Homo sapiens: one gene and its partners. The protein of the gene in region 2 interacts with the protein of the main gene of each other region in a biochemical or structural test. Each region holds a gene or a part of one and is shown on either strand. Other genes may lie near its edges. The genes, in order: ZYX, LATS1 and LOXL2.

What was found.
Region 1: the proteins of LATS1 (region 2) and ZYX form a complex in vitro, tested with the Homo sapiens proteins (one study listed by BioGRID).
Region 3: of the proteins of LATS1 (region 2) and LOXL2, one has a biochemical effect on the other in vitro, tested with the Homo sapiens proteins (one study listed by BioGRID).

What each region holds. Positions count from the first base shown.
Region 1 is NC_000007.14:143,387,702-143,391,349, forward strand, and holds the end of ZYX (zyxin), read left to right. Parts: intron 1-517; coding exon 518-638; intron 639-787; coding exon 788-957; intron 958-1,065; coding exon 1,066-1,244; intron 1,245-2,155; coding exon 2,156-2,276; intron 2,277-2,876; coding exon 2,877-2,981; 3' UTR 2,982-3,410; downstream 3,411-3,648. UniProt on the Homo sapiens protein: Adhesion plaque protein. Binds alpha-actinin and the CRP protein. Important for targeting TES and ENA/VASP family members to focal adhesions and for the formation of actin-rich structures.
Region 2 is NC_000006.12:149,708,005-149,711,652, reverse strand, and holds part of LATS1 (serine/threonine-protein kinase LATS1), read left to right. Parts: intron 1-3,648. UniProt on the Homo sapiens protein: Negative regulator of YAP1 in the Hippo signaling pathway that plays a pivotal role in organ size control and tumor suppression by restricting proliferation and promoting apoptosis.
Region 3 is NC_000008.11:23,366,078-23,369,725, reverse strand, and holds part of LOXL2 (lysyl oxidase homolog 2 precursor), read left to right. Parts: intron 1-1,291; 5' UTR 1,292-1,374; coding exon 1,375-1,729; intron 1,730-3,600; exon of another isoform or gene 3,601-3,648. UniProt on the Homo sapiens protein: Mediates the post-translational oxidative deamination of lysine residues on target proteins leading to the formation of deaminated lysine (allysine).

The DNA of each region.
Region 1 (3,648 bases), on a different chromosome or scaffold from region 2:
CAGACAGCTCAGTGGGTTTAACCTGCAATTCCTGCCTGTGTTGTATCCTCACGCTGACAGGGGCTGCTCAGCAGCAGGCAGGCCGGGTAGGTGTGTGTGCGCGTGTGTGCACGCCATTGCGTGCCCCTGTCCCATGGGGGCGATGTCCGAGCATGCTCTGTGGAGTTGATGCGTGGCCCTGGAGTGTCCGGTGCTTCAGTGACCCGAGCTGCTGTGTGCGTGGCCTCCGTCCGCCCAGTCATTCTGGCCTGTCTGTGACTGCTCAGGGGGTTTGGGCAGAGTGGGTGGAAATGTCTTGCTGTACGAGATCCAGGCTTAGGTCCCTTCCCCTGTTATTTGTGTGGTGCTGGGGATGGCGGGGGTAGGGGGACGAGGGAGAAGCTTTAAGGGTCAAGCCTGAGCATCTGGGACACGAGCTGGGAGCTAAGCCTCATCGGAAGAAGCCGGGTAGGCTGGCCTGGGAAGGTTCTTGGAGGCAGCAGCCCTCTAGAGTGTGAGGAAAATGTTGGGATTGCAGGTGCGCTCCCCTGGGGCCCCAGGGCCCCTGACTCTGAAGGAGGTGGAGGAGCTGGAGCAGCTGACCCAGCAGCTAATGCAGGACATGGAGCATCCTCAGAGGCAGAATGTGGCTGTCAACGGTGAGCCCACCCCACCGGGACACCCCCACCCTGCCCCCACATCACGGTGGGGGCCAGGGCTGTGGCTCCACTCCCTATCTGAGCTGGCTGATCCCTCGCAGCTCTACATACTTCCTTCTATTTACTGCTGTCTTCTCTGGCCTTCCCAGAACTCTGCGGCCGATGCCATCAACCCCTGGCCCGGGCGCAGCCAGCCGTCCGCGCTCTAGGGCAGCTGTTCCACATCGCCTGCTTCACCTGCCACCAGTGTGCGCAGCAGCTCCAGGGCCAGCAGTTCTACAGTCTGGAGGGGGCGCCGTACTGCGAGGGCTGTTACACTGTGAGTCGGGCTGTGCTGGGCTGTGCTGGGCTGTGCTGGGCAGTCGGGCCCTGGAAGCTTGCTGTGGGGTGCCGGTTCCCTGCCAACCTCCTCCTGCTGCCTCCTCAGGACACCCTGGAGAAGTGTAACACCTGCGGGGAGCCCATCACTGACCGCATGCTGAGGGCCACGGGCAAGGCCTATCACCCGCACTGCTTCACCTGTGTGGTCTGCGCCCGCCCCCTGGAGGGCACCTCCTTCATCGTGGACCAGGCCAACCGGCCCCACTGTGTCCCCGACTACCACAAGTGAGGACCTGCCACCTGCCTTCTGGGTTCCCGGCGTGCTTGGTCTGGTAGCCCGGCTGCTTGCTACCCTAGCCTCAGGACAGCCCCAAACCCCTGGTGGTGTTTTCTGGTCCCATGTCCTGTCTGTAAACAGCAGGGACCAAGTCATCGGGATGTAGCTGTCCAGGGGCCTTAGGCCTGGGCATCGAGTCCTGCTGCTGTCTGGTCCCTCCCTCGCCCTTGATCACTGAAGCTTATTGTGGGTGTATGTCAGCATTTCGTGAAGTGTGCTGGAGTGACTTCATCTCACACACAGGCTGGGTTCTAAAAGTTCTTTTGGAGATCAGCTGTTTGGATTTCTGGTTTCTCCCCAGAAATAGTGTTTAGAAGGTGGCTACTTTTTCAGGCTGACCCGCAGAACCTCAGTGCAGCTGTGGGAACAGTGCAGAATCTGACCCCCACCTCTGACAGAGTGTTTGGGTAAACACTTTCAGGATTCCATCTGGGGTGGCCACAACTTCACATCCCTCCACAGTGCCAGACAGTCAGGGCAGAGGCAACGTGCATGGGGGTGGGAGGATTGGGGGAAGGTGAGGGTCAGGGACCCAGGATGGGATGGGAGGGGTACCTCAGGGCTGGCTTTCTGCAGGAGCTGCAGTGTGAATGGGACAGTAAGGGTCGAGTGGGAGAGAACACCGTGGCAGGTGTGTGGGAGGCTCCCTTGCTTTGGGAGAGTGACTGGTGAGGCAGGAAATTCCCTTTGATGAGGGCCAGTCATGGTGTCTCACTCTTAGGCCCTTCTGGTGAGCTTCCTTCACCTGGAGATGCAGGGCAGAGAAGTCTGCTTCCTTGCTGCCCAACCTGGCTTATGCGTGCGCACACCGGGGATGAAAGCCCTGGCTAACTCGGCTGGCCCTTTCTGCCCCTTCCAGGCAGTACGCCCCGAGGTGCTCCGTCTGCTCTGAGCCCATCATGCCTGAGCCTGGCCGAGATGAGACTGTGCGAGTGGTCGCCCTGGACAAGAACTTCCACATGAAGTGTTACAAGTGTGAGGTCAGCCATCCCTCTGGACTCCTTGGGCAGGTTCTGACCAGGAGGTGGCGGGAGATGCTGCTTACTAACTGGGAGGTGGAAAGCACCAGCATTCAGGAAACAGGGCTGTGATTTTGAGGGTGGCTCATGGTGGCACCCCATCTGTCCTGCCAGAATGCTTCCTGCCACTGCAGGAAATGGGGCTGTGGGGCTTCTGAGGTCACTTTGAGTCATGGATAAGCCAAGAAATGGGACAAGCCAATAGGAGAGAAGAAGGGCATGGTGTTTTACCGTGGTAGGGGATGGGGAAACAGGAGCTGAGAGAAGAGGTCTTCGAATGGAGGTGAGCCAACCTCTATTTTATTAGGGTGGTGGTGGGCAGGGGAGCAAGCACCTTGGGAGCAGCTCTACCCACTGCTTGCCCTCTTGCAGGAAGGTCCTAGTGGGTGACTGGAAGTAGGATAGGGATGGGGAGTTGGGTGTGGCTGGAAAAAGCGATGACACCAGCTCTGAGCCATGAAGCATCTTTCTAATTCCAAGATGGAGCTGGATGGGGTGGGGTAGGGTGGAGCAGAGCAGGGGCCTTCCGGTCCAGTGCCCCTCACCCTTCCTTCTTCCCAGGACTGCGGGAAGCCCCTGTCGATTGAGGCAGATGACAATGGCTGCTTCCCCCTGGACGGTCACGTGCTCTGTCGGAAGTGCCACACTGCTAGAGCCCAGACCTGAGTGAGGACAGGCCCTCTTCAGACCGCAGTCCATGCCCCATTGTGGACCACCCACACTGAGACCACCTGCCCCCACCTCAGTTATTGTTTTGATGTCTAGCCCCTCCCATTTCCAACCCCTCCCTAGCATCCCAGGTGCCCTGACCCAGGACCCAACATGGTCTAGGGATGCAGGATCCCCGCCCTGGGGTCTGGTCCTCGCCCATCCTGCAGGGATTGCCCACCGTCTTCCAGACACCCCACCTGAGGGGGGCACCAGGTTTAGTGCTGCTGCTTTCACTGCTGCACCCGCGCCCTCGGCCGGCCCCCCGAGCAGCCTTTGTACTCTGCTTGCGGAGGGCTGGGAGACCCTCCAGGACATTCCCACCCTCCCCCATGCTGCCAAGTTGTAGCTATAGCTACAAATAAAAAAAAACCTTGTTTTCCAGAATTCTCAGTAGTCAGCTCTTTTGTAGTGCCTGCAGCCCTCATGGGTGGGATGGAGGCAGAAAATCAGTTCCTGTTTATTTACAAAAATATATATATGTGTATGTATGTATATATATTAACCCCTCAGCTCCCTCCCATGATCATCCTTTTACTTCTACCCCCACCTCCCTTTTAAAACAAAGAGGTTTTCTGGGGTGCAGAGCAGGGTTCTCCTGAAAGTGGGCAGAAGCAGCACCGAT
Region 2 (3,648 bases):
TGCTCATAGAAGTCGGGGACCCAAGGGTTTTAAATTTTGAATAGACAAGAAGATTTTTTTAGTATGAACTTGAGATGATTTAAGAAAAAAAAATTTCATTTTGTTTTTTGAGATGGAGTCTCACCCTGTCACCCAGGCTAGAGTGCAGTGGCACAATCTCCGCTCACTGCAACCTCCGCCTCCCAGGTTCAAGCAATTCTTCTGCCTCAGCCTCCTGAGTAGCTGGGACTACAGGCACATGCCACCACGCCCAGCTAATTTTTGTATTTTTTAGTAGAGATGAGGTTTCACCTTATTGGCCAGGCTGGTCTCAAACTCCTGACCTCGTGATCCGCCTGTCTCGGCCTCCCAAAGTGCTGGAATTACAGGTGTGAGGCACCGTGCCCGGCCAAAAGATATTTTTTTTTTTTTTAACAAAACAGTTTCTTTAAAGTTAGTAAGCCTCTTCCGATCTGTTTGGTTTCCTTCAGTTCTATGTGTCAGTAACCACAGTCGAAGTTCACATGTATTGGTAAACTCATCCAAAGATTTAAGAGCGTCTATTCCTCCTCCTCTCATTTGGTTGTTTGAGGCTATTAGGTTTGATGGGAAGGCTACGTCTTTAATATGGTCTTAACCACAGAAGCACTAGTTAGCTAAGGGGTTTCAGTGGGCATCTGTGCTCAGTCTTTTAATCCTGCCTCTAGGGGTCTAGGTACAAGCTGCTTTTCCAATCCTTCAAGGCTTTAAATTTCTGAACTTTTTCTATTCTCTTCTGTTTTTGCTTTCAAATCTACTACTTCCTTCTTGAACTCATCATTTACTTATAATACTTGCCAAATATCTAATAGCAGCCAATACTCACTTCCAAAATCCTCTTTACCAAACTCCTATAACACTACAAGGTCAGTAGCCTCTTTGTATGTTCACTGACCTTGTAGTTGTATGAAAAGTTATTATAGGCAACAGCGTTACCAGATATTTTGCCACTATAAAACATGATCCTCCATCTTTCCAGCCTCCGGTATCTGTTTCCTCTCAGCCCTTAATCTGACCACTAAGGCAGTATCACTAAGGCAGGACTGCATAGGTTTTTATTGTAGCAGCACCTCACTTCCAGGTACCAGTTTTCTGTATTAGGATAATGAAACACTGAATATACAGATGGACAATGGCCAGATCATATATAAAACTAGAACTCTGACCCATGACCTATGTAGCAATAGGCCCAGTCAGGACTTGGTCAGTAATTACCAGCTTCCCTAATTTTTGTGCCTTCTTCCAATTCGGGACGACTCAGAGAAAGCCAAATATGCTTCCCAAATCAACCACATAGGATACCCCGCTTCCAGTGTCGACGAAGAGTCAAACTCTGTAAAATATTTTAAGAGATCTATTCTAAGCCAAATATGAATGGCTATTGCCCCATGACACAGCCCTCAGGAGCTCCTGAGAACATGTGCCCAAGGTGATCAGACTACAGCTTGGTTTTATACATTTTAGGGAGACATAAGACATCAATCAGTATATGTAAGATGTACATTGGTTAGGTCCAGAAAGGAAGACACCTTGAAGCAGATGGCTTCCAGGTCATAGGTAGATTCACAGATTTTCTGATTGGCAGTTGGTCGAAAGAGTTGTTACTGTCTAAAGACCTAGAATCAATAGAAGGGAGTATCTAGGTTAAGATAAGGGGTTGTGGGCAGGCACAGTGGCTCACGCCTGTAATCCCAACACCTTGGGAGGCCGAGGCAGGTGGATCACGAGGTCAGGAGTTCAAGACCAGCTTGGCCAACATAGTGAAACCCCATCTCTACTAAAAATACAAAAATTAGCGAGGCATGGTAGCGCACGCCTGTAATCCCAGCTACTCAGGAGGCTGAGGCAGGAGAATCACTTGAAACCGGGAGGCGGAGATTGTGGTGAGCCAAGATCAAGCCACTGCATTCCAACCTGGGCAACAGAGTGAGACTCCATCTAAAAAAAAAAAAAAAAAAAAAAAAAAGATAAGGGGTTGTGGAGACCAGGGTTCCCATTATGCAGATAGAATCAATAGGAAGGAATGTCTGAGCCAAGGTAAGGGGTTGTGGAGACCAAAGTTCCCATTATGTAAAGGAAGCCTCCAGGTGGCAGGCTTCAGAGATAATACATTGTAAATGTTTCTTATCAGGGTTGATTCTCTCCTGGATCAGGCAAAAGGCCTGAGAAAGGAAGGGAATTAACTTCAGAATGTAGATTTTCCGCACAAGAGACAGCTTTGCAGGACTGTTTGAAGATATGGCAAAGAAACATAATTTGGGGTCAAATACTTGGATTTCTTTCAGGGCCTGCCATCTGTCATGTGATACTATGCTAGAGTCAGGCTGGAATTGGGTATCTTATTGCTACAGAGAGTCTGTTTTGTCAGTCTTAAGATTTGTTTTAATGTTAGTGCTGGTCAGCTGTGCCTGAATTCCAACAGGGAGGAGGGAATAATGAGGTATGGCCAAACTCCGCTTCCCATCATGGCTGGAACTAGTTTTTCAGGTTAACTTTCAAATGCTCTTGGCTGGGAGGAGGGGTTCATTCAGATGGTTGAAGGACTTAGAATTTTATTTTTGGTTTACATCAGTTAGCCCACCTCCAGTTTCCCATGCCAACAACCTACAATCAGAGCATACCTGATGTCTTCCCCCTTTTTTTAGTATAAAGATTTCCCACTCCCCTGCTTGCCTTTGAATCTTTGCCAAGCACAAGTTGACAGTGGCTGACTCCCTACCTATATAGTAAGATCTAATTAAATAGCCTTTGTTTGTTTCCATTTGGGCAGTCTTTGTCTATTTTCACAATGTTATTAGGCTGTTTTGTGGTAACAAATCCCCAAATATCAATGGCTTAACACAACAGAAATGTTTCTCTTGCTCAGAGTTCAGTGGGAGTCAGTAGGGTTCTCCATCCAGTGGCTTAGGGATCCACCTTCCTTCCATATTGTCAAGCCACCATCTCAGAATGTAACCTACATTGTCATTAAAGCAGGAAAACCGAAGCAAAGTGACTTTTAACTGCCTCAGTCCAGAATTGAGATATGTTACATCTGCTCATCCAGCTTTGGCCAAATCTGGGAAATGGAGTCGAGTACTGTATGTGAATATAGTCTCTGCCAGAATATATTTACCAAAAGCAATTGGCTAAAGATATACACAATTCCTCCATTTCAGCGTTTTTGAGATCAGAAGATTTAGATTATCTTACAATTGAAATTTTTTTTTTTTTTTTTTTTGAGATCCAGTCTCGCTCTGTCGCCCAGGCTGGAGTGCAGTGGTGCAGTCTCGGCTCACTGCAACCTCTGCCTCTGTGGTTCAAGCGATTCTCCTGCCTCAGCCTTCCGAGTAGCTGGGACTACAGGTGCCTGCCACCACGCTCGGCTAATTTTTGTGTTTTTAGTAGAGACGGGGTTTCACCATATTGACCAGGGTGGTCTTGTACAATTAAAATTGAAATGAATATTCAAATGTAATGCTTCTGTTATTTCCCCTGATAAATGAAGTGACATTGTTTCATGGAAATAATAGTTTCTTTAAAATGAATCCTGTGTATTTTAATTGCATGTATTTAAATAAGAATTTGTAGCAGAACCATTCTAGGATCCAGTCATTTCCTTTCCTTTTTTTTTCTTTTTTAACTCTCTAT
Region 3 (3,648 bases), on a different chromosome or scaffold from region 2:
GGCTCTCCGGTGACATCAGAAAGCTTTCCAAAATCCTCAGTTCTGACTGTCCCCCAGGCTCTAACATCTCCACCCCAGCATCCTCTTCGGGGCACTGAGCACTGCTGGTCACCCAACAGACATGGAACTGCCTCACTCCAAGGCAGATCATCCCTCCATGGGCAGCTCTGGACAGCTCTGACTACAGGAAAGTTAGCCAGTCCTTCCTCAAAGGTAGTGTGCCATGACCAGAAGAATATGATTAGCCTACTCCTCTGCATAGGGTTAAAATAAAATACCTTATGCCCCCACCTAAGCTTCCACCTGCTCATCCTGGTTTGGGGCCCTGCATGTTTCTCCACAAGACACACGTGTGCTCCTTTTAAAATCGTCTCCTCTTTTCTCTGAATTACGGGAGGACCAAGATACACGAGGTCTCTTGCTACATGATTTCACTCGGGAATTCTTAGAGGTAGGCTCCACCAGATACGATGACCAGGACCTTGAGGATTTTAAAACTCATTTAGCATTGCAGCCCTCAAAGCTGACGGGAAAATTATAATTCATCTAGCAAATGTTCCTGTAGTGTTTTGGGGTGCCATTCATTTAATGGAGGGTGGGTGTGTTGAACATCCTGCCCTCACCCCTTCAGACCCGCTCCTTCTCCACCGGCCCCCATGTTCCAGGAGGCTGTCCCACACGGGCTCCCTCAATGGGCTCAGCTCCCTTGCCAGTGGCTTCGAGTTGAAGGGGGCTGGGTTTGCCTAATAGGAGGCACCAGAATGATTCAAAGACGGGAGGAAAGGGAGTCAGGTATTTATTCTCCCTCCCATGTCCCCGCCGTTGCCATGGGTTGGCTCTGAGACCCTCCAGTGAGGGCCACAGCTCCTAAGAGACAGCTCCCTCTGCCAGTCTCCAGTTCTCACCCCCGCAGGCTCCCTTCAAGCCTAGGGTGGTCACAGCCCCCTCTGAGTCGCCAGCCCTAGGGTGTGACACCGGCCTTTGTTAGTTCTGCAGAACTCTGCCGGCATGTCCGTAGTCTTAAAAAACTCTCCTTAAATTAAGTTGGAGTGTGTTCTGTTCCCTGCCAGGAACTCTACTGGAAAAAGCATTCTAGAGAGATGACAAGGCAGTAGGTAAAGGAGGTGGGACCTCCCAGCCCTGCATGGTGGAAATGTAGGAGTGGGGCTGGATTGGCGTCGAGAATGGACGAGCTTTCCATATTAAGCCAAGGGGTATGAAATCGCTGGTTCTCTATGTAGGTCTCCGTAGCCCCACGTTCCCATCCTAACGCATCTCTCCTCTCTTCCAGAAAGCTCCTGCTGCTTCTGTACCCCGCCTGTCCCTCCCAGCTGCGCAGGGCCCCTTCGTGGGATCATCAGCCCGAAGACAGGGATGGAGAGGCCTCTGTGCTCCCACCTCTGCAGCTGCCTGGCTATGCTGGCCCTCCTGTCCCCCCTGAGCCTGGCACAGTATGACAGCTGGCCCCATTACCCCGAGTACTTCCAGCAACCGGCTCCTGAGTATCACCAGCCCCAGGCCCCCGCCAACGTGGCCAAGATTCAGCTGCGCCTGGCTGGGCAGAAGAGGAAGCACAGCGAGGGCCGGGTGGAGGTGTACTATGATGGCCAGTGGGGCACCGTGTGCGATGACGACTTCTCCATCCACGCTGCCCACGTCGTCTGCCGGGAGCTGGGCTACGTGGAGGCCAAGTCCTGGACTGCCAGCTCCTCCTACGGCAAGGGAGAAGGTAAACGCTCTGTGCTTTGGATCTGAGTGCTGTCACCTGGCAAGGCCCGGAGTGGCCTTCCCTGAGGTCAGCCTGGGAGAGGAGGCTGCACGCACTGCGAAGTGTAAATTCTTGGTGATGCCCATCCAGGGACTGGCATCCTTCTGTGCCCACTCAGGCTGCACCCTGCAGGAAGGCGGGGTCGGGGGGCTTGAGGAGGGGCACAGTAAGTGACCAACCATACTGATTTGCCCAAGACTTTCCTGGCTTTAGCACAGAAAGTCTCACATCCTGGGAAAACCTCAGGAAAACCAGGACAGTTGGTGACCCCAGGTAGGGGGTGAAATCGGCCTGTGCTCCTCTCTCCGCCCCATATGCCCTGCCTGGGGGCTGCGTCAGCCCAGAGGAAGTTGCGCTTTACTCCAAATCGTTCCCTGTTAGGAAAGCCTCTTGCTCTTCCTCACAATGGCTCCCACATGCTGGAGCTCCCTGACGCCCCCCACCTTCCTGGCATGTGGAGTTCATCGTTTTCACACTAACCTGCTATTGTGGGCTTGGTCACAATAGGCACACAGATGCTTTGGGTTTTTCACCGTTGGTTAGCCTATTCTTTCCTCCCTTGTGAGGTTCAAATTTATTAGTTTATTTTTAAAAATTGTTTTAAGAGCTGGCCAGGCGCAGTGGCTCATACCTGTAATCCCAGCACTTTGGGAGACGGAGGCGGGATGATCACTTGAGGTCAGGAGTTCGAGACCAGCCTGGCCAACATGGGGAAACCCCATCTCTACTAAAAATACAAAAATTAGCCGGGCATGGTGGCGAGTGTCTGTAGTCCCAGCTACTCAGGAGGCTAAGGCACAAAAATCGCTTGAACCCGGGAGGCGGAGGCTGCAGTGAGCCGTGATCGCGCCACTGCACTCCAGCCTGGGTGACAGAGCGAGACTCCATCTCAAAAAAACAAAAAACAAAACAAAAACCCAAAAAATTGCTTTAACAGCTTTGAGGCAGGACAAAGTTTGAAGCCCTGAACCTAGAGCTCAGTCTGTACTGACCTCTGACACCACACTTTGTAGGAAGACGCATGTCCTCTCCAGCCTCATTTTCCCCATCTGGAAGTTGGGCTAAGAACCCCTGAAACCCTGACAGTGTATGTTCCCAAATAGGAAAGAGATAAGGGTGGAGGGAATTGTTTCTTTTTAAACATTTTTCCAGGAGCTAAGAGTTTCCTATCTCTGGGTCAGCCAGGCAAAGGAAGCTCCCACACCCTCCCGCCCGGCTGAGCTGCAGCCCAGACCTCAGCACAAGTCTGGCTACTGGACTAAAGCAGAGCTGCCTATACTCCTGTCCTGGACTAAAGGGCTAATGCCATGCTGACTGCGTAAGAATCGCCCAAGGGAGCTTAAAAGTACAGAATAGCGCAGACCTCAACCCACCATAATCTAGTTTAAAAGGTCTGGGCTGGAGCCCAGGACTCTGTCTCTTTTGGAAGTCTGCAAAGTGACAGGTTTGGGAGTCATTGAAATTGATAACTGTTATCCTCCCTTCCAACTTTTCTGTTATTCTAGAAATTATAGGAGAAAGGAAGTCCCATCTCATACACATCTCACCTCCATGCAATTGAAAATTTCCTTTTGGGGTAACTGGATCAGGAGACAGCACAGAGTCAAATGTTCTCTGCAGCTTGCTCTGGGCGATGAGAGCCACAGCAGTGAAGTTAGCAAATGCTGGGCTTTAGAACCCACTTCCTGTCTTCTTTAAACAAACGTCCGATACTTCCACATCTCTGTTTATCCGGCTGGCTGAGCGATCCAGGGGTAACCTCAGATTCATGTTTTCCATTCCAGGCTTTCCAACGCTCATTATTTTATAACAAATGCTTTCCAGTGACTGGGTATTTTTCCAGTGACAACTTAATTTTATTTCAACCTCAATTTAAAACA